Linked DNA regions of Homo sapiens. The protein of the gene in region 3 purifies or fractionates together with the protein of the main gene of each other region. This does not show direct contact. Each region holds a gene or a part of one and is shown on either strand. Other genes may lie near its edges. The genes, in order: RAB39A, MARCHF5, SLC35D2 and XPOT.

Region 1 (4,359 bases), on a different chromosome or scaffold from region 3:
TTACCAGAACGTGGTGACAGCTGTAGCCATGGGAGAGGGTCCACCCTACAGAAACCCTGACTAGAAGCAGAGGAATACCACCACTGCTAAGCCACAGCCCAGCAGAAGCAAACAGAGGGATAAATACTCTGACTTCTCTTTCCTTCTGTCTCCAGCCAGCGCCTCCCATTGGCTGAACCCCCCTGCAAGCTGGAGGGCAAGGGAGTTTGGGAAAGCTTTTTGTGAAGGACAGCTTCCTCAGGCCTAGAGAAGGATGGAGACTAGATCTGGAGAGACATACAGAGAATCGTTAGCACACCTCAGATTCATATCCCAGGTCCATACAGTCTCCTGTTTCTTGAATAGGTGCAACACAAGACTGTACCTGTAACTAATACTGTGACAAGTCTGCTGTCTTCGTGAGTTTGGGCTGTTATAACAAATTACCACAGAATGGGGATTTAAACAACAGAAATTTAGTTCTCACAATTTTGGAAGCTGGAAGTGGATGATCAGGGAGATCCTGGTGCCAGCATGGTCAGGTTCCAGTGAGGGCCCTCTTCTGGGTTGCAGACAGCCACCTTGTATCCTCACATGGTAGAAAGAGGACTAGAGTGCTCTCTGGGGTATCTTTTTTTAAGGGCACTGGTCCCATTCACGAGGGTTCCACCCTCATGACCTAAATTACATCCCAAAGGCCCCTCCTCCTAATCCTAATACCACCACATTAGGGTTAGCATTTCAACATAAGAATTTGGGAGGGACACAGACATTCGATCCATACTACAGCCCTTGTTTCTTTTTCCTAAACTGATAGAGAGAAGAGTTCATTAAATTTTATGACAAGTGAGATTCTTAAGATCTAGTTTGTTGTACAACCTGTGCCCTTTACTCAGTCTTTCAATATGCTTATTTTTAACCACAATGATGTAATAATCTATCAGATTTTTGAAAGCAAAAACAAATAATCAGACAGTATGAGATGACATAGCATGTAAGTGCTTATTTGTCTAACTAAAAATAACTACTACTTTCGTGTTCTGTCAGTGTATGAAACTTGCGTATTAGTCCCATAGAATATTTTTGTTCACTTGAGATACCTCATATTTTATTTATAAATTCTAGTTAAATCATATTAAGATATCTTCAAATGTTATTATGGTGCTAGATTGTTGGAAGGAGAAGAAAAAGAACAAGTTGTCCTTATACAACCTTTTTTCTCTTCATTTTTCAGATCAATAACCCGATCTTATTACCGCAACTCAGTTGGTGGATTTTTAGTATTTGACATTACTAACCGACGATCTTTTGAACATGTGAAAGATTGGCTAGAAGAAGCAAAAATGTATGTACAGCCATTTCGGATTGTATTTCTGCTAGTGGGACATAAATGTGATTTAGCTTCACAACGTCAAGTTACAAGGGAAGAAGCTGAAAAACTGTCAGCAGACTGTGGAATGAAGTATATAGAAACCTCAGCAAAGGATGCTACAAATGTTGAAGAATCCTTCACAATCTTGACGAGAGACATATATGAACTTATTAAAAAGGGAGAAATTTGTATTCAGGATGGCTGGGAAGGGGTTAAAAGTGGTTTTGTTCCAAATACTGTGCATTCTTCTGAGGAAGCAGTAAAGCCCAGGAAAGAATGCTTCTGCTGACTTCAAACATGCTGAAGAACTAACAGGAACAGATTGGGTGTCAGTTCAGGATAAATACCAACATTAACAGCAGAATGATGCAATGAAAGAATTTAAAAAGGTTACAAACCCACACCAATACTATTTTATAAGGTATTTGATTCAGAGCATGATGCTTACTTGTTACACTACTAGATTGGGTATTTTGCTAAATTACCAAGCAAAGCAGACAATCTTTTTCTTGAAATTACCTCCATTCTTACTTTGTTAGCATACGCTGACCTTAGTGTCCAGATATGTCACTATTACTCATTTTTCTTGACAGTTCAAATGGATTTTTGTGCATATATAGTCAATTGAAAAGATTTTATCAGGAATTACATTCTCTTGAGTTAATTAATATTGAATAGCAAAATGCATTTAAATATGCACTGTTCACCTGCAGAGTAAACAATCTCAGAAGTATCGACTAGGACGTAAATAGCAGTTCCTTATATAAAGTACCAGGTTTTTTCCCCATTCTCTGGAAATGTTTGTCCTCCCTTAATTTTGCCTCAACACAAGAAAATAAGTTTTATGTCCATTTTTGTTCCCTAATTTATTGCTTCTAAAAATGCATTATGTTTTACAAAGATATCTAAGGATCCAAGCAAACTACTTTAAGCAAATATTTGTAAAATTAAAAACGGAGGACCGCTCACCAAATGTTTGAAATGTTGCTTTTTTTTTTTGAGACAGGGTCTTGTTTTGTCACCCAGGCTGGAGTGCAGTGGGGCAATCTTGGCTCCCTGCAACCTCTGCTTCCTGGGTTCAGGTGATTGTCAGTACCTTACCTCAGCCTCCTGAGTAGCTGGAACTGCAGATGTGCGCCACCATGCCCGGCTAATTTTTGTATTATAAGTAGACACAGGGTTTCATAATGTTCCCCAGGCTGGTCTCCAACTCCTCGCCTCAAGCAATTCGCCCCCCTCGGCCTCCAAAGTGCTGGAATTATAGGCATGAGCTGCCGTGCCTGGACTATCAGCAGCACATGTTTTGCTGTTACGGTGTACTGTTCGTATTTAGACAAGAAGAACAAAATTTATTTATGTATTGACATTTTCAAAGAAAGTAAATGCAATTTACTTTGAACTATTGTCAAAATTATTAATATAGGTAAACATGGAATGTTTTTAATAATAGCATTTTTGTCCAAGTAAATTTCCAAATTTCCTAATTTCCAATATGAAAAGAATGCAGAAAAGATTTTTCTGGGGAAGAAAAATTGGTTAGATGCTTGATATATTTAGCCTTCAAATTGCATTTTACAATCTCATCAGTACAAGTTAAGATAGAATAATCAATTAAGACAGTAAAATGACTTTTGAGTTTCCTAATTTTTAACTTATTGATTAAACTCTCCTGGAAGGGATATTTTGATCATAGTGTCAAATATTTTATAATGTACATTTCTATTCTGTTCTGTAAACTACTCTTAATCACAAAAGAGTACCAAGTGAAGTTTTTTGGAATCATAAGGTTTTTACTCTTAACCTTTAGTTGCTTCATTTGTTTGAAAACCAAAGTGGCATAGTAGAAAGAATATTTAATAAGAAATCAGAAAACTTGGTTACCAATATCTAACCATGAGTAAGTCACTTGACCTCTCTAAGCACCATTTTTCTTATCTGTAAAATTAGGCTAATAACCCCATTTATTAGTGTGTTTCATGGAAAATTATTTTGAGAATCTAGTGAATGATGCAACAAACACTTTGTAAATAGAGTAAGCATTTTGAGATTGATATGCTGCTCATGGGCATACTATTATATTTACAATGGGTGAGAATTTTGTTTTCTCATGATTTTTCCTTTCGTTCCTATGCAGAGGGAGTAGAAAAAGATGTGTGTCTTCATGGACCCGTAGGAATTCTTGATTGATGCATATCCTCTGCTTATTTTTTTTGGCGGGGGTGGGGGGCGAGGGGGCCGAGGTCTTGTTCTGTTGACCAGGGTGGAGCGCAGTGGCATGATCACAGCTCACTGCATCCTGGACCTCCCAGTCTCAAGCGAGCCTCCCACTTTAGCCTTCTGCTAGCTGGGACCACAGGTGCACGCCACCACGCCTGGCTAATTTTTTATTTTCTATAGAGAAGGGGTCTCCCTATGTTGCCCAGGGTATAGGTCTCATACGCCAGGGCACAAGTCTCATATGCCAGGGCACAAGCAATCCTTCTGCCTCGGAGTCCCAAAGTCCTGGAATTACAGGCATGAGCCCCTGCGCCCGCTTCCTCTGCTTTTTTTACCCTGAGCTATTGTTCCTGCAAAGTGGAAATAATAGAGAGGGACGTTCCTGCAGACTTAACCCAATCAAAAGTCACGTTTGTGCTTTTTGTGCATCTTTGAAGTAAATATTTAATTGTATTTTCAAATACTTGTACATTTTCTGGGTTCATGTATTTTTAATTGTGCTTATGGAGAGATTATAAATTATAACTATATAAGGTATGACTATTTATATTGTCAGCATTTTCTTGATATCATTAGGTTAATTTCACATGAGTTCAAACCGTAATTAACCAAATGAGAAAATACTTGTCCCCCAAAATGTGAAGTAGTCCATTTTACTGTTACAGTTTTCAATATTATATGACAATTTCCCATCAGTCCAAAATGGCATAAACCCCAACACTGAAAATTTAGCAGTTGAAAGTACAGTCACCTGTGCCTACTTCTAAAGTTAAATAGCTAAAACATAAAAT
Region 2 (5,591 bases), on a different chromosome or scaffold from region 3:
TGTCTTTTATTCCCACGTTTGCCCCCTTTGTTCAGTCCTCCAAGGTCCGTGCAGGTTACATGCCACCAGAGGGGAGAAGTGGGAGTAACAATAATAGCAAACAACATGAGTGCTTACTATGTGCTAGTACTTATACAATCCTCACAATAATCCTGATTATTACCATCACCATACTACAGGAACAAAAAGTCCAGACATTTGATTTAGATTTCACAGCAAGACAATTTCTGTGATGGGATTTGAACCAGGTGGTCTGATCGTAAAGTACTGTAATCCCACTGGCAAGAGGGACAGGTGTGATGATTCATGCATATGCCAGGAGAGAAAGCACCTACAACATAGTTCCAAAAGGCCAGAACTGCTGCAGTGGTTTCTCCTCTTTTTATTTCCACTCAAGCTATTGAATGATAGTGAGGCTCAAATAGAGGCTTAATGCATAGGAGCCACAGACCGAATATTTATACAGTTCCCCACCTTTTAAAAACAAATACACTTCATTCTCTTTTGCAAGGTAATATAAGTAATGTTAAAGCCGTCTTACCAAGATTGTCCTTTGTAAATTAGAGTTAACACTACTGAACATCAATTTACCAACTATTGTAGCAATAGTAGGAAAGACAAGGGCTCCACACAAGATTCGAGTAGCAGAGACATGATCTGCTAAAGGATTGGCCTCAGCTGGAATTCGAGGAACAGGACAACCTATCCCTAGAGGAAAAAAATGCAGTGCGTTAGTGCTAATAAATCAGAAGAGTTAGACTACCTTCAAACATGGCTAAAAAAGCATGTTATTGTTCTTCAAGATCAATTTGGTATGCACTTTACAACCACAGTTCAGTGCCTTACCTGGAAATATACTATTTAAAATTTGTAGTTTATTCGAGTATTTGCGCCACAGTCTAAGCACATAGTCCTCCCAGCGAATCATCTTGCCTAATATCAGCATGACAGGAATAGTAGGAAGTCCAATTAAAAGGAATAAAGGATCAGCTCTCTCCATAACATCCAGACCTTCTTTATGACCTACAACCTGTGAAACAGATAGCATATATTAGAATTACTTCTTTTTCAAATGAGGTGTTGCATGTTAAGCTCTATTTTTTTAATAGAAAATGCTTAATTTCAAAAGAATACACAGAAATAAAAAGTTTAAAAAATAAGCTGGAAAGCTATCAGTCCTGATTTATTTATAAGAAATGTCTCATTCAAGGGAAAAACAAAGTTCCCAAGCCATTTCATACCACACAGGAATAAAAATTAAAATGGCTGACCCAGACTGATTACATTACAATAGAGGGGCGGGGACCTCTGATTGTTGCTTCTATTCCTTTATTTGATTTGGTTAGACTGGGCTACGGAACTGGGATATAATTCTAAGTCCTATTTGTCTTCCAGCAAAACAACTGTTTTCCTGATCTTCCTTCTAGGAGATTAAGCATAGCCAGCCAAGAGGTAGGACCGGCCTTCAAGAGATGGCCTGAAAGCTCATTTCTCTTTGGCTCTTTCTCCTTACTTAGTGGTGTGTAAGATAGGGTGTGATGTCTCTGGCTGGCTAAGTGTCTACCCTACAGACCTAACCCTCCTTAAGTGCACTTCCAAGGTCTAGAATTGAGGGACTGTAGTAGGAGGTCCAGTTTTGGTTACAGATCCCAGGCATTTTTCCCAATTCAGGAACTCTAGGGTACCCTATCTATGGGGGTAATGAAGCTAATACAATCTTTTCCTTACCCTATCCTAGTCTTGGGGCTATTTCTAAATTGGTGTAGATCCCAGAAGGCGAGAAATACAAAATTGGCATTTGTGAACTTCTACCTTTTCCCTCTCTCCAAAATCCTTTTCACTTCCACATCAATCTTGGCCTTAAATTTACCTCTTTTTGTTGTTGTTTTTGAGATGGAGTCTCGCTGTGTTGCCCAGGCTGGAGTGCAGTGGTGTGATCTTGGCTCACTGCAACCTCCGGCTCCTGGATTCAAGCGATTCTTCTGCCTTAGCCTCCCGAGTAGCTGGGATTACAGGGGCATGCCACCATGCCCAGCTAATTTGTGTATTTTTAGTAGAGACGAGGTTTCATCATGTTGGCCAGGTTGGTCTCGAACTCCTGACCTCAGGTGATCAGCCTGCCTCGGCCTCTCAAAGTGCTGGGATTACAGGCGCGAGCCACCGTGCCTGGCCAAAAATTTTTTTTTTTTTTTTGAGACGGAATTTTTTGCTCTTGTTGCCCAGGCTGGAGTGCAATGGCACGATCTTGGCTCACTGCAACCTCTGCCTCCCAGGTTCAAGCAATTCTCCTGCCTCAGCCTTTCGAGTAGCTGGGATTACAGGTGTGCACCTCCACGCCCAGCTAATTTTTGTATTTTTAGTAGAGACGGGGTTTCTCCACATTGGTCAGGCTGATCTCGAACTCCTGACCTCAGGTGATCCACCCGCCTCGGCCTCCGACAGTGCTGGGATTACAGGCGTGAGCCACTGCGCCCGGCCCCAGAAATGTTTTATGAAAGTGTGTGGAGAGGACCAAATTTGAGCTATGGATATAGTCCAGATTTCCACTTGGTTAATTTATCTAATTAAGATGTAATATTAAAGGGCAGGAGGCTAGCCTCTTCCTAATGGTCAATAATGTCATCGAATTTGATATTCTTCTGTGTCTCCAGGTAGAACTTAACAACTTCCTATCTTGCATGTGGAAGGTGATCCTTTTGAGTTGCCCTAAAGTGAAATGGTCTGGTTTATGATATTTCATAAACCCCAATTCCATAATGGTAGCAAAAGTTAGCTGGCCATGACTGTTTTACCTATAATGATTTCCCAGGAAATTTCTTTATCTATCTATCTATCTATCTATCTATATATCTATCATCTATCTATCTATCTATCTATCTATCTATCTATCTATCTATCTATCTATCTATCTATCTGAGACGGAGTTTCAGTCTTGGCATGATCTTGGCTCACTGCAACCTCCACCTCCTGAGTTCAAGCTATTCTTCTGCCTCAACCTCCTGAGTAGATGGGATTACAGGCACATGGCACAACACCTGGCTACTTTTTTGTATTTTTAGTAGAAATGGGGTTTCACCACGTTAGCCAGGTTGGTCTCGAATTCCTGACCTCAGGTGATCCGCCTGCCTTGGCCCCCCAAAGTGCTGGGATTATAGGCGTGACCCACCACGCCCGGCCAGGAAATTCCTTTAAAGAAAAAAAAAGACAGGGTCTTGCTACGTTTCCCAGGTTGGCTTTGTACTCCTGGGCTCAAGCAATCTTCCCACCTCACCCTCCTGAGTAGCTGGAACTACAGATGAGTGCCACCACGTCTGGCTAAGAAATTCTATTTTTATATCATTAAAAATTTCAATATAATGATCACTCTAACATTATAACTAAATATGATTAAATATTCTCAAAGTGTTAGCAAATAAATTCAGAATATTTGAAAAAATCCTTTGTCGGGTTATGTGTCCTTTTTTTGGGTTTAGAAATATAAAGAAGAGTGAATATTCAGGTATAGACTAGAGCGAACAAGAGGAAGTTTGTTTCTCATGGGTAGCAGTAAAAACCTTATAAGGTGTTTAAGAATAAGGAAACAAAAAGGAAGTAGGGGTTGGGCACTGTGACTCACAATTGTAATCCTAGCACTTTGGGAGGCTGAGGCAGGCGGATCACCTGAGGTCAGGAGTTTGAGACCAGCCTGACCAACATGGTGGAACCCCGTTTCTATTAAAAATACAAGCCAGGCGTGGTGGTGGTCATCTGTAATCCCAACTACTCGGGAGGCTGAAGCAGGAGAATCGCTTGAACCCAAGAGGTGGAGGTTGCAGTGAGCCGAGATTGCACCAGCCTGAGCAACAAGAGTGAAACTCCATCTCAAAAAAAAAAAAAAAAAAAAAAAGAAGGAAATAGGGCAAAGAATGAGCAAAGGCCCAGTATTTCACTTGTTACAACTAAAGTGAAGAGAGATGCCCCATGCTCAAGCAAGTTAGAAGTGGGATGAGGCTCATCATTCACACATGCATTCATTCATTCACTGAATAATGATTTTGTGCTGGGGCTAAAATGGCAGGTTAAACAGATGTCTTTTGAAAGTGAGAGAAAATCAAACCAAACAAGTGTGCAAATATATACACTGTGAAGAAATAAGGTAGTATAACACCTGCAGTACACCACTTGCTAAAACAGTCATACTCAGGGGCAATAAATGAAAGGTGATTAAGCAATAGGCCTGATTTAATTTTGGCCAATACAAAGTCAGTGAACCTGTGTGTAATCACATACATTCTGCTTTCTTGTCCCAAGATTTAAAAACATTATTTTTAAGACTTCGATTTTGGGGTAAGCTCCAGGAATTATATAGAATGTCTAAGAATTTGTTATCTATGTATAAAATAAAGGCCTGGCTGGGCACAGTGGCTCACGCCTGTAATCCAAGCACTTTGGGAGGCTGAGGTAGGTGGGTAACTTGAGTCTAGGAGTTTGAGACTGGGCAACATGGTGAAACCCTGTCTCTACAAAAAATACAAAAATTAGCAGGGCGTGGTGGCATGTGTATGTAGTCCCAGCTGTGCAGGAGGCTGAGGTGGGAGGATCACCTGAGCCCAGGGAGTTCGAGGATGCAGTGAGCCGTGACTGCGCCACTGCATTCCAGCCTGGGTAACAGAATGAGACTCTGTCTCAAAAAAAAAAAAAAGAAAAAAAAAAAAGAGAAAAACAAAAGACCTATAGAATTGCAGGTTTAGAGAAAAATAATTTTTTGTTTTTCCTGCAGAAGGGCTAAAAGCTAGATTTTCATATCTAGGTAGGCCTGCAGTTCATTGCTGCTGAAAGGCTAACAGTTTTAATTAAGGTCTGAGCTTTTAAATTATTATTAGAATTCTACATTAATTAATTAGAGACAGAGTCTTGCTCTGTCGCCCAGGCTGGAGTGCAATCTTGGCTCACTACAACCTCTGCCTCCCAGGTTCAAGCGATTCTCACGCCTCAGCATCCGGAGTAGCTGGGAATACAGCCACTATGCCTAATTTTTTCTTTGTATTTTTGGTAGAGATGGGGTTTCATCATGTTGACCAGGCTGGTCTCCAACTCCTGGCCTCAAGGGTTCTGCCTGCCTCAGCTTCCCAACGTGCTGGGATTACAGGCATGAGCTACAGCACCTGGCCAGAATCCTAACAAGAGGATGAAACAGTGATGAAATAACAGGGTTTTTTTTTTTTTAACTCAGAATCAAGGATAAGTAAGTACTGTAATTAAGAATGGGCAATGCTAATGGGGGCTGTCTTTGCACTAGAGGCAAAAATGGGAACTAGGCTAAACATATTAAGGTTCCACTGTTCCAGGATAAAATGTTCCAGCTGCCTCTGGGACCAGGCTTCACTTAAGGAGCCAAGGGACAGGAGTCCTAATGCTTCTCTGCTGTGTGGCACTGGACCTGTAAACTCTCTAAACCAGTAAACTAGGAATAATTTATAACAATAATCTATGTCATAAAATTGTTGCAAGGGTTAAATGCATCAGTGCTAGGTGTTCAATACAGTGCCGAGAAAAAAAAATTATTGTGTTGTCTTTTCAATAAAAATGCAAGAGGAAGGTCCTATTCAAGT
Region 3 (5,591 bases):
TTGAAGTCTGATCAAATAGAAGAGGCTAAACAGGGTAAATATTCGGATATTCCAGTACCACAAGCCAGAATAGGAGGAGGATATTCTCCTAGAGCATTAGGATTTAATAAAGTATATGTTAGCTGAGCACAGTGGCTCACCCCTGTAATCCCAGCACTTTGGGAGGCTGAGAAAGGCAGATCACTTGAGGTCAGGAGTTTGAGACCATCCTGGCCAACATGGTGAAACCCCGTCTCTACTAAAAATACAAAAATTAGCTGGGTGTGGTGGTGCGCTCCTGTAATGCCAGCTACTCAGGAGGCCGAGGCAGGAGAATTGCTTGAATGTGGGAGACAGAAGTTTCAGTGAGCCAAGATCATGCCACTGCACTCCAGCCTGGGTGACAGAGTGAGACGCTGTCTCAAAAATATAAAATAAAATAAATAAAAATAAAGTATATGTTAGGTCTCTTGTACTTTCTATAAGGGAAGGATATGTTTTCACACATGAAGGAGAAAACAAACACTTTTCATATACAAATGAAGTAAATAAAGATGACAGTGGAGGATGTGTTTCTAGAGCCAGAGTGCCTGGACTGACCACCTGCTATCCTTGGGAATGTATTTAAGCACAATGCCCTAGATGCTTTGCCTATACGATAGAAATAGTAACAGGACCTTCTCTTCTGCTGTGGAAATGCAGTGAGATAGTTCATGAACAATGCTTTGAAAAATGTCTGACATAATAAGCCCTCAGCAAGTATTAGCTATTATTATTATCACATGAGAAAGCAGAAGATTCCACATGATAATCATTACAGGCAGAGGGCAACTTCTGAAAACACCATGCTACAAGTTTATAAGTCAATGACGTTGATGTAAGAACACATATTTCTTCTGAAACAATGTTATACATTATTAACATAATACACCTAATCTATTTTACTCATAAAGAACCTAAAATTCAGTTTCTGGTCACTATGCCTTTCATAGTGTTGTTGCCATGGGGAAATATGCTTTTAGCCCCAGTGAGATGTTTTAACAATATTTAGGAGTTTCTAGATTTATATTTTTGGAAAAAAAAAATATATATATATCTAAAATACCAGAATTTCAGAACAGATAAACTCCGCTGATTTAAAAAAACAAAACAAAACAAAAACAAAAAAAAACCCTCGTTTCTATAATAATGAAAGGAGACAAGCCTCTAGGACCACTTCATTAAGAGTTCATAATTTTTCTTTTTATCTTTTTTCCTTTTTTTTTGAGATGGAGTCTCGCTCTGTCACCCAGGCTGGAGTGCAATAGCGTGATCTCGGCTCACTGCAACCTCTGCCTCCCAGGTTCAAGTGATTCTCCTGCCTCAGCCTCCTGAGAAGCTGGGATTACAGGCACCCGCCACCATGCCTGGCTTATTTTTGTATTTTTACTACTACTAAAAATACTCTCTACAAATGGGGTTTCATCACGTTGGCCAGGCTGGTCTCAAACTCCTGACCTCAGGTGATCTGCCTGCCTCGGCCTCCCAAAGTGCTGGGGTTACTGGTGTGAGCCACCTCGCCTGGCCAAGAGTTCATAATTTTGTTTTGTGTAATGTTGGAGCACTGACTCAGTTTAAAATTGATTGATGGTAGCTGAAAAACAAATACTGTGTTTTCAGGTATCATGCCCTGCTCATTCTTACTAGAGAGGTGCAGGTGCCCGCTTTATCTTCCAAAACGGAATTAACAGGGAGGCTCAGGTTCACAACGTTCTAAATAACCCGAAAAAGAGAGCTCTTTATCGAGATTGGTGCCACTTGGTAGTTTTCCATATAAACCCGTGGAAATGGCTGTTTGTGCCCGGGGACGAGGTTGCTAAGCCCTTCTGCTGATCCCTCCTTCTGGGAAGAGAATTGGACAAGTGAGAAAGTCCAGCTGGAGAAAGAACAAGGAGCTGCCCAGGAGTCCACAGCAGCCTGCAGCCTTTCAGAGTCACTCAGACCCTAAAAGAGCTGCAAATGGGATTGACTTTCAACTGGTGGGCAACATACACCCATGCTGATTGCTAAATATGGAAACACTGTCCTGTCCATGGGTAAATGGGTGCTGCCCCAGCCCCAGGCCAGCAATGACGGGGTTATCGCCTGGCTGGTCAGGGCTGTGTCCGGAGTCGAGTCTGTGGGTGGAGGTCCCGCTGAGGAGGGTTTTGCCCATCGCATCTCGTTTCTCACAGTCACTTACACATCAGCAAAGTTCTCAGAGGCTGTGTGGCCCGCGACTTCCTGAAGAAGTCCGGGCTTGCACCCTTCGGGGTGGCCACTGGAGCTGTCACTATGGAGAATGTCCACACGTCCTGAGAGACTTGGCCTCCACCGCTCCACTGGGCCTCAGATCTTACCACTAATTTACCATTTTATTTGTCTCTCACCAGCAGCAGATACGGTTTCAGGGCAAATGCTGAAAGAACAACACCTTCCCAAAATTCAAATGTGGATCCTGGAATATTTAGAGGTAAAATGGCGTGATGGCTGGGATAGGTTTTAAAATACTCCAGAGGAACAAAAAGCTGGGGATGGATGAGGACAGATAAAATAAGATGGCAAAATGCCAAAGTGTTGAAGCTAGGTGGTGGGTCCCTGACAACTCATTGAATTACTCTATTTTGTGCATGTTTCAAAATGTCCGTAATAGAAAGTAACAAATAAATAAACAAACCTATGTTTTAAAATGATCAAAATCCCCTTCTAGGGTAAGTAGCTCTCCCAGGGTCCCCACATTAGCAAAGGGGGATATGGAATTCAAACTCAGATTTGTATTGTTGTTTTCCAAAAAGTACCAAGTCCAGAGTTCTTGGCTCTCCTTGATATGTGGCTAAGGATAAATGCCAATGCAAGGGTAGTGCCAAAAGGTGTTACTAGGGATATCAAACATCTTGTTATCATGTACCCTCCTGGTAGTCCTAGCTAACTTTACACTTTTTGTTTCAGTGCATATCAAATGTTAAATATTAAATTTTTTAAAGCCAGCTAAGGAAAACTGTAATGATTGTCATCAGCTCACCTGTTGCAGGTCTCCAGTGGAGACACTAATAATAAGAGTTGGGATAATCATGAAGCAGGCATTGTAGAAAAGTACTCCGTATTTCCCTAGCTCCTGCAAAAACAAAAATGTAAAAACCACTCAGTTTCAGAAACGTGAGGCACAGATTTCCTGGAGCCATTTATACAACTGCATATTCATGCGAAGTTAGAATGTGCATTCTGAGCAACTCTTTTGGAATATTTTCAGCAAATTTCTGACATAAAATGCTTTGGTTTGAGGGTACTGAGATTTTGGAATAAACATTTGTTTTACACCAAAACTACAGAGAAAACGCATGGCAGTGGGAAGCCTCTAGGGTTCCATTCATCTCCAGCATTCTAATTATGTGGGGTTTTTTTTAAAGCATGTAATTCAAAATGGGAAATCTGGAACAAAATAAAGAACATTAAAAATGTTAATATAAACAAAACTCTTTAAAAACATCTGCTCTTTCCATTAAAGGACAGCAGCATCATATATTTACTTTCATTAAAGTGGCCACACCACTTCACCATTTTCAAAAAAGGATGACATATTGTGATCCTCAAAAGACAACAAACCTGTTTTTGCAAAACTTCTACCGTTAAAAAAAAAAAAAAAAAAAAGGCCATGCAGGGGAAAAAAAAAAAAAACAGAGCAGATAAAAAAAAAAAAAAAAGAGCAGATTAAAAAAAATAGCTCATGGAAATAAGCCTGTTGGTCAGAGTGAACTCCCTCATCCAGCACAAAGAGCTTGGAACAAAGAAACATATGCCTGACTCATCCTCCGGGCTTCCTTGTAACAGCTGGGGGTGGGGGAGGGATGGGGGAGGGGGAGGGATGGGGCCTCCACGTGACAGGCAGCCACACAAAAGCAAAGCTCCTCTGCCCCACCCCTCATCATCAGAAGCAGCAGCTATTGCTGGACAAGACCTTACAAATTATCCATTGCAGTCATTTCATTCCACAGATAAGGAAACTGAAGTTTGGAGAAGTTAAGGTTCAAAGTCACAACAGTCAGTAAGTAGAAAAACTTGTGTCTGTAGCCCACATCTCCAGACTCCAAACTAGCGCTCTCTGAACAAATATCGTGACCCCTGACCTTGCCTTGGTGATTGATGATGCTGGTAAAAAAATTAATTTGCCTTTCAGAATAATCCCTTTTTATATGTTCTGAGTGTGCATCTAAACTAGTGGCTTTTCCCATCATATCTCATTTTCACCCAAAATTTCGCAAATAATAACTTATACAGACAAGATAATTGAAAATAAGGAATTTACAGGTCATATTATATAAATTAAATTACATTCCAACTGTACACATTCATTTTCATTTTTCATATAATTCTAGGGGCCAGATGACAGAGCCAAAAAGCCATAGGCAAGGTCTGGTACCTTTGGGTCCATTTTCTGTTTGGTATAAACTCCATTTGCTGCTGTGAAGATATCATTCAGGAATACAAAAATATAGCCTTCTAAGTTAAAAGCAAGGTCAGACCTGGGAGGGAGACCACAAAGGGAGAATGATTACTCAAAAACTCACAACTTGGCCTCCAAGCCCGCCTGATCTACCTTTCCCTAATCAAACCCACTTTTCTGTGGCACACTTTCCCCGCTTTGTGGTAGTGAATGATTAATTCCTCTGCTTTGCCTCCAGACAAAAACCAAACCAGCCCATCAGATGGCTTCGACTCAATCGTGAATGGCTTAAAACCAGAGCGACATTAAGCATCTTCCTTCAACTGCAACCCCTTTCTTTCGCTAGCTGATGAATCCACATAATAACTGGTGAGCCCTGACTTTCCTAAGGGGAGTGATTCGCCCCGATCCACCCAGGGGCTCTGCTTATTGTAGTGAACAGGGCCACCTCCAGGGTGCAGCCAGTGAGGGGCAGCTGGGCAGAGGCTGGGTAAGAGGGGTCGCATGAGGCAGCCACACCTCCATCTGGTGCCCAAACCGCACCCCGTCCATCAAAATGGCAAGGCAGGTATCCATCCTTCTATGTGACCCCTCTATGGCTCCTTTCTTCCCATTCTTTTGAAACAGCTTCTCTTCCATTTCCATTATAAATAGCACCAGCATAAATACGTTTGGGGATCTATGACAGGAACAAGAGGAAGAGCAATAGCTGAGCCATGATGTGGCCCACCCACCTGCACTTGATCGTTGCAGACAGTGCTAGGCCATGTCATAATTCAGAAATACACATTGCCAGGGAGGAAAACCTTTTCCTGTACCCTCTTAGATTCAGTGTCTGGGGGCCTGCTAATTTAACTGATAAAAGACAGATTAACAGGAGAAAGAGAATACGAATCTTATTAATATGTTCCCTGAAGTTCACAGAAAAGAAGTGAAACTCAAAGAAACAGTTAGACTTGGGGACTTACGTTTTAAAAAGGAAAGAGGATTTGGGCTTCAAGGAACAAATAAATTGTGTAATTGTTAGAAAGTAACTAGGAAACCTATGGTGGAAATGATGAACGAGAAGGGTTCTTTTAGGGTTTGTTTATGCAGATGCATCTCAGGGCCGACCCTCCGTCCAGTGATAGGAATTGCTCTCCTCTTCCTGGGA
Region 4 (5,591 bases), on a different chromosome or scaffold from region 3:
GTTATAGATACGTTTTGATGTACCCCAAAGTGTTTTAAAAGTGCTGAGTTGGCCAGGTGAGGTGGCTCTCGCCTGTAATCCGAGCACTTTGGGAGGCTGAGGCCGGTAGATCACTTGAAGTCAGGAGTTTGAGACTAACCAGCCTGGCCAACATGGTGAAACCCCGTCTCTACAAAAAATACAGAAACTAGTCAGATGTGGTGGCATGCACCTGTAATCCCAGCTACTCAGGAGACTGAGGCACGAGAATTGCTTGAACCTGGGAGGCGGAGGTTGCAGTGAGCCGGGATCACACCACTGCACTCCAGACTGGGTGACAGCGAGACTCCGTCTCAAAAATAAAAAAAGTGCTGAGTTTGTTGGTTACACATAAAAATCCAAGGCTGGGCGCAGTGGCTCATGCCTATGATCTCAGCACTTTGGGAGTCCAAGGCAAGAGGATCGTTTGAGCTCAGGAGTTTGAGACCAGCCTAGGCAACATAGTGAGACCTCATCTCTACAAAAATTTTTTTAAAAAATTAGCCAGGCATGATTGCGCGCTTCTGTATTCCCAGCTACTGGGGAAGCTGAGGCCAGGAGGTTGAGGCTCCAGTGAGCCATGATGGTGCCACTGCACTTCAGCCTGGGCAATACAGCAAGACCTTGTCTCAAAAAAAAAAAAAAAAATGAAAATCCAGATATTTCACAGAAAAATCTAGATTTCCAGCTTTTCTGGAAAAGTCAGAATATCTGGTAACACCAGGCCTGTTTTTCTACATGACAATTCTCTCTTAGAGTTAAGTAGCTGCATGGGCACTTGTGTTCAGAATCTCTGACTTACTAATTAAGCAAAATAACAAATCACTACTGAGAGGATTCCTAGTTCACCTATTGGTTTATTCTGTAGATCACAGACCACAAAACATTTTCATTCGAAAAATTGTGTAGCCATCATTTGTTTCAACATGAACAGAATCACAAATTAAAGATTGATATTGATGCCCTACCTGCCACTCTTGTCCTTATCTTTAAAGCAATGATGAGTGGCATTATCAGTTTATGTTAGGGAACTTCAGATAATTGAGAGCTATACAAATTTTCCCTTTCAAATATATGAGGCTGTTATTTTTTACAACCATAGACACCAAATATAGCCATTATTCTTTTTCTTCTCTATTTTGAACAGATACTCAGAACTAACCACTGTTCAACAACAGCTAATTAGGGAGACGCTCATATCATGGCTGCAAGCTCAGGTAAAATCATAATTTCATTCAGTACCTCAAATTATTAGATATTTAAACTTATTTTTTGCAAGAGTTTGGAACTTTACCTCAAAGATTTTCATCAGTGTTCCTCCATTTGATTTCATAGCTTTTTTAAAAGGTGCTGGTTTTAAAGATCATGGAAGTGGTAGTTTAGCAATAATTTAATATTATATCAATGACTGAAATGGTCATAGTTTCCATGACACATTGTGGAAACTTTGGTTTTAAAATGTAGTTGTTTTTAACTACTTGACAAATGCTGCTTTCTGTTTGGCTCTTAAAGGTGAGCCCTCCTGGACAGCCTCTCCACCAGAGCCCTTTATAAAGGGCCAGTTGAGTTCTTTTCAGTTAATTTTAGCTAATCTTAACACATAAAGCAGTTGTGTAGCTAGAGTTTTCATTTTCCTTAAAGAGCAAGTAGAGGAAAATTTTTTTTTCTTCTTAGAAGAAATTATAGGAACTATTAAAACTCTGCACATGAAACTTTTCTGTCAAAGTGTAAGAATGAGGAATAATCATTACAGCCTTTAATGGTTCATTTAATTGTTCTTCATCTGGTCAATCACTTAAATACTTTTGATAATTTTGATAATCATAATTATCAAAATAATTTTGAAGAGTATTTGTTGCATAGTTTATCTGGGCCATGTTGACATTTGATGAAACTTTGCCTTTTAATAAGACAACTGGTGTTTCTGGGTCTTTTCAATTTACATTTAATTTTATGGACTGTTTCTCTGTTTGTCAGATGCTGAATCCCCAACCAGAGAAGACCTTTATACGAAATAAAGCCGCCCAAGTCTTCGCCTTGCTTTTTGTTACAGAGTATCTCACTAAGTGGCCCAAGTTTTTTTTTGACATTCTCTCAGTAGTGGACCTAAATCCAAGGGGAGTAGATCTCTACCTGCGAATCCTCATGGCTATTGATTCAGAGTTGGTGGATCGTGATGTGGTGCATACATCAGAGGCAAGTAACTAACCATGAATTTTTTATATTTAATGTAAGTTTTGTAGGTGATAATGGGCACATAATAAAAAGAGCAGGGAAGTTTTCTTTCTTGAGGTAAACTTTCTTAAGTTATATAATTATAAATTTACCTGATGTTTTGGATTTTATTTTATGAAGGAACTCAAACTTGGTTATTTTTTTTCCAGAGGTATATTGAAATTAAAGTATTACATTACATTTTTTATTTTTTTACTTTTTTGAGACGGAGTCTTGCTCTGTTCCCCAGGCTGGAGTGCAGTGGCACAGTCTTGGCTCACTGCAACCTCCGCCTCCTGGGTTCAAGCGATTCTCCCACCTCAGCCTCCCTAGTAGCTGGGATTATAGGCACATGCCACCACGCCTGGCTAATTTTTGTATTTTTTGTAGAGATTGGGTTTCGCCAGGCTGTGCTCAAACTCCTGACTTCAGGTGATCCGCCCGCCTTGCCCTCCCAAAGTGTGGGGATTACAGGCATGAGCCACTGCGCCCAGCCTAAATTTTTTTTAACTAGGCAAATACTGTAGTGACATACACGAGTTGATTTTCTTTTATGAATCTGTTGAGAAAGGTAGTCTCAATTTAATACTGCTATATAGTCCCTGAGCAAGGAAGAAGCATTGCTTAGGAGTTGTCCGTGTTGCTACTTCTGTATTCTTCATCACATAGTGTAAGTACTATGTTACTATATTGAGAAATAACTTAAAATATGCTTAAGATTTCTAAGCAGTGCTTTTTATAGTTTGTATTTACTAAGAAATTAACTCTGACACTGAGGAGTAGAACAGAAAGAGGAAATACAAAGAATCACAGGATATGATCTTAGAGCTGGTAAATAGGAAATACTGGTAGGGAATGTGTTAACAAGTCTGAAAGTTTACTCTCTGCAAGTATATTCAGATATCAAACATGATTTTGTAAGGTAATCTACTTTGCATTTGGCGTTTTGTATTTTAGGAGGCTCGTAGGAATACTCTCATAAAAGATACCATGAGGGAACAGTGCATTCCAAATCTGGTGGAATCATGGTACCAAATATTACAAAATTATCAGTTTACTAATTCTGAAGTGACGTGTCAGTGCCTTGAAGTAGTTGGGGCTTATGTCTCTTGGATAGACTTATCCCTTATAGCCAATGATAGGTAAGTATGCCTATTATTTTTATAGTATAAACTTGTAAAATACAGTATCTAAAACTCATGACTTTGAAAATGTTACAATTTTATTGTCCCATTACCAGGTTTATAAATATGCTGCTAGGTCATATGTCAATAGAAGTTCTACGGGAAGAAGCATGTGACTGTTTATTTGAAGTTGTAAATAAAGGAATGGACCCTGTTGATAAAATGAAACTAGTGGAATCTTTGTGTCAAGTATTACAGTCTGCTGGGTTTTTCAGCATTGACCAGGTTGGTAAATTTATATAAAACATTGTATGTAAAGTTGTTAGAACAAACTGGGATAGGTACTAAGTTAAATATAATAATAGCTTTTTTTCTTCTAAATGTTATAAACTCCCCTTGAGATTATAATATAAACCACTGCATCTAGCCAAAATGTTCTCAGTAGCATTCTCCTTGGAGAATGGGTTATACCAGTTCTTAAACCTGAAAGCCTGTAATTGCACATTTCTCACAAACTCTTAGGAGATGCTGACACAACTTGTTCATAGTGGAATTGAGATTTTTTGTTTTGTTTTGTTTTTTGAGATGGAGTCTCACTCTGTTGCCCAGGCTGGAGTGCAGTGGCACAGTCTCGGCTCACTGCAACCTCCGTCTCCCGGGTTCAAGTGATTCTCCTGTCTCAGCCTTCCGAGTAGCTGAGATTACAGGCGCATGCCACTACACCCGGCAAATTTTTTACCTTTTTGGTAGAGACGGGGTTTCACCATGTTGGCCAGGCTTGTCTCGAACTCTTGACCTCAGGTAATCCACCCACTTCGGCCTTCCAGAGTGCTGGGATTACAGGCATAAGCCACCGTGCCCAGCCTGGAATTGTTAAATATATGACGTCATTTTAAAATTGAATCCTGTAATTAGCACTTGATTCATATTAAAGTTCAGTTTTTCCTCTTAGCTTGGGCAGGCAGTTTTAAACAGAGATGTGTCTTGATTGCTTATAGGAAGAAGATGTTGACTTCCTGGCCAGATTTTCTAAGTTGGTAAATGGAATGGGACAGTCATTGATAGTTAGTTGGAGTAAATTAATTAAGAATGGGGATATTAAGAATGCTCAAGAGGCACTACAAGCTATTGAAACAAAAGTGGCACTGATGTTGCAGCTACTAATTCATGAGGATGATGATATTTCTTCTAATATTATTGGATTTTGTTACGATTATCTTCATATTTTGAAACAGGTAAGTTTTTGTTTTATTCTTTTTGCTCAATACATAATACAAAGGAGCCATGGAGAAGTGGAAAATATGGAAAAATTAAAAATGAGAAAATACCCATAATTCTACTACCTAAAGATATTTACTGTTAAATACTAATGTATTTCCATCTTAAAAAAAAAAGAATTGGCCAGAAAATAGTTTCAGGTTCTAAATTCAGTAGACTAACCAGCTTCAGAGGTAGTTATAGGTTTAGGTTTTTTTTTTTATTTTGAACCTGTCTTTATTTGTGAATACAGTTGAAATTTTCATAAGCATGGTTTGTTATTTTAATTTACATATACATCATTCATTTCTCATAAACAATTTTTTTTTCTTTTTTGAGACGGAGTTTTGCTGTTGTTGCCCAGGCTGGAGTGCAATGGCGTGATGTCAGCTCACCACAACCTCCACCTCCCAGGTTCAAGCGATTTTCCTGCCTCAACCTCCCAAGTACCTGGGATTACAGGCATGCACCACCACATCCAGCTGATTTTGTACTTTTAGTAGACAGGGTTTCTCCATGTTGGTCAGGCTGGTCTTGAACTCCCTACCTCAGGTGATCTGCCCACCACAGCCTCCCAAAGTGCTGGGATTACAGGTGTGAGCCACCACGCCCGGCAACAATTTTTTACAATTAAAGTTTCCCCCACTTCCAGAAAGAACTTGTAGGTGGTGTTAGTCTCCATATTATAGCATTTAGCAATTAAAATAATTAGTAACTTATCAATATGATATTAGATGAAAGCCATTTCTGTATATTTACTTTGAATTAATTGAGTCAAGTCAAACTTAAAATATGTTCCCAAATGACTTTAGTTTCTGTTTTATTGTAGTAAACATAACATGTATCTTTATGTATACTTCAAGAAATTTTATGCAGTGTGGAAAGGTATGATCACTATTGGTAATTCCATTGTATATCTCTTAATGGTTTTGTAGGCTTGTTTTGCTTTGTTTAAAAACCTTTGCAGAATATGTTATA

What was found.
Region 1: the proteins of SLC35D2 (region 3) and RAB39A purify together in Homo sapiens (affinity purification with mass spectrometry; one large-scale study listed by BioGRID and IntAct). This does not show direct contact.
Region 2: the proteins of SLC35D2 (region 3) and MARCHF5 purify together in Homo sapiens (affinity purification with mass spectrometry; one large-scale study listed by BioGRID and IntAct). This does not show direct contact.
Region 4: the proteins of SLC35D2 (region 3) and XPOT purify together in Homo sapiens (affinity purification with mass spectrometry; one large-scale study listed by BioGRID and IntAct). This does not show direct contact.

Annotation. Positions count from the first base shown.
Region 1 is NC_000011.10:107,960,733-107,965,091, forward strand, and holds the end of RAB39A (ras-related protein Rab-39A), read left to right. Parts: intron 1-1,213; coding exon 1,214-1,640; 3' UTR 1,641-2,750; downstream 2,751-4,359. UniProt on the Homo sapiens protein: The small GTPases Rab are key regulators of intracellular membrane trafficking, from the formation of transport vesicles to their fusion with membranes.
Region 2 is NC_000010.11:92,344,788-92,350,378, reverse strand, and holds part of MARCHF5 (E3 ubiquitin-protein ligase MARCHF5), read right to left. Parts: intron 1,031-5,591; coding exon 847-1,030; intron 709-846; coding exon 542-708; intron 1-541. UniProt on the Homo sapiens protein: Mitochondrial E3 ubiquitin-protein ligase that plays a crucial role in the control of mitochondrial morphology by acting as a positive regulator of mitochondrial fission and as an important regulator of immune response.
Region 3 is NC_000009.12:96,340,885-96,346,475, forward strand, and holds part of SLC35D2 (nucleotide sugar transporter SLC35D2), read right to left. Parts: intron 4,518-5,591; coding exon 4,415-4,517; intron 3,113-4,414; coding exon 3,020-3,112; intron 1-3,019. UniProt on the Homo sapiens protein: Nucleotide sugar antiporter transporting UDP-N-acetylglucosamine (UDP-GlcNAc) and UDP-glucose (UDP-Glc) from the cytosol into the lumen of the Golgi in exchange of UMP.
Region 4 is NC_000012.12:64,416,881-64,422,471, forward strand, and holds part of XPOT (exportin-T), read left to right. Parts: intron 1-1,165; coding exon 1,166-1,235; intron 1,236-1,995; coding exon 1,996-2,214; intron 2,215-3,189; coding exon 3,190-3,374; intron 3,375-3,472; coding exon 3,473-3,641; intron 3,642-4,354; coding exon 4,355-4,591; intron 4,592-5,591. UniProt on the Homo sapiens protein: Mediates the nuclear export of aminoacylated tRNAs. In the nucleus binds to tRNA and to the GTPase Ran in its active GTP-bound form. Docking of this trimeric complex to the nuclear pore complex (NPC) is mediated through binding to nucleoporins.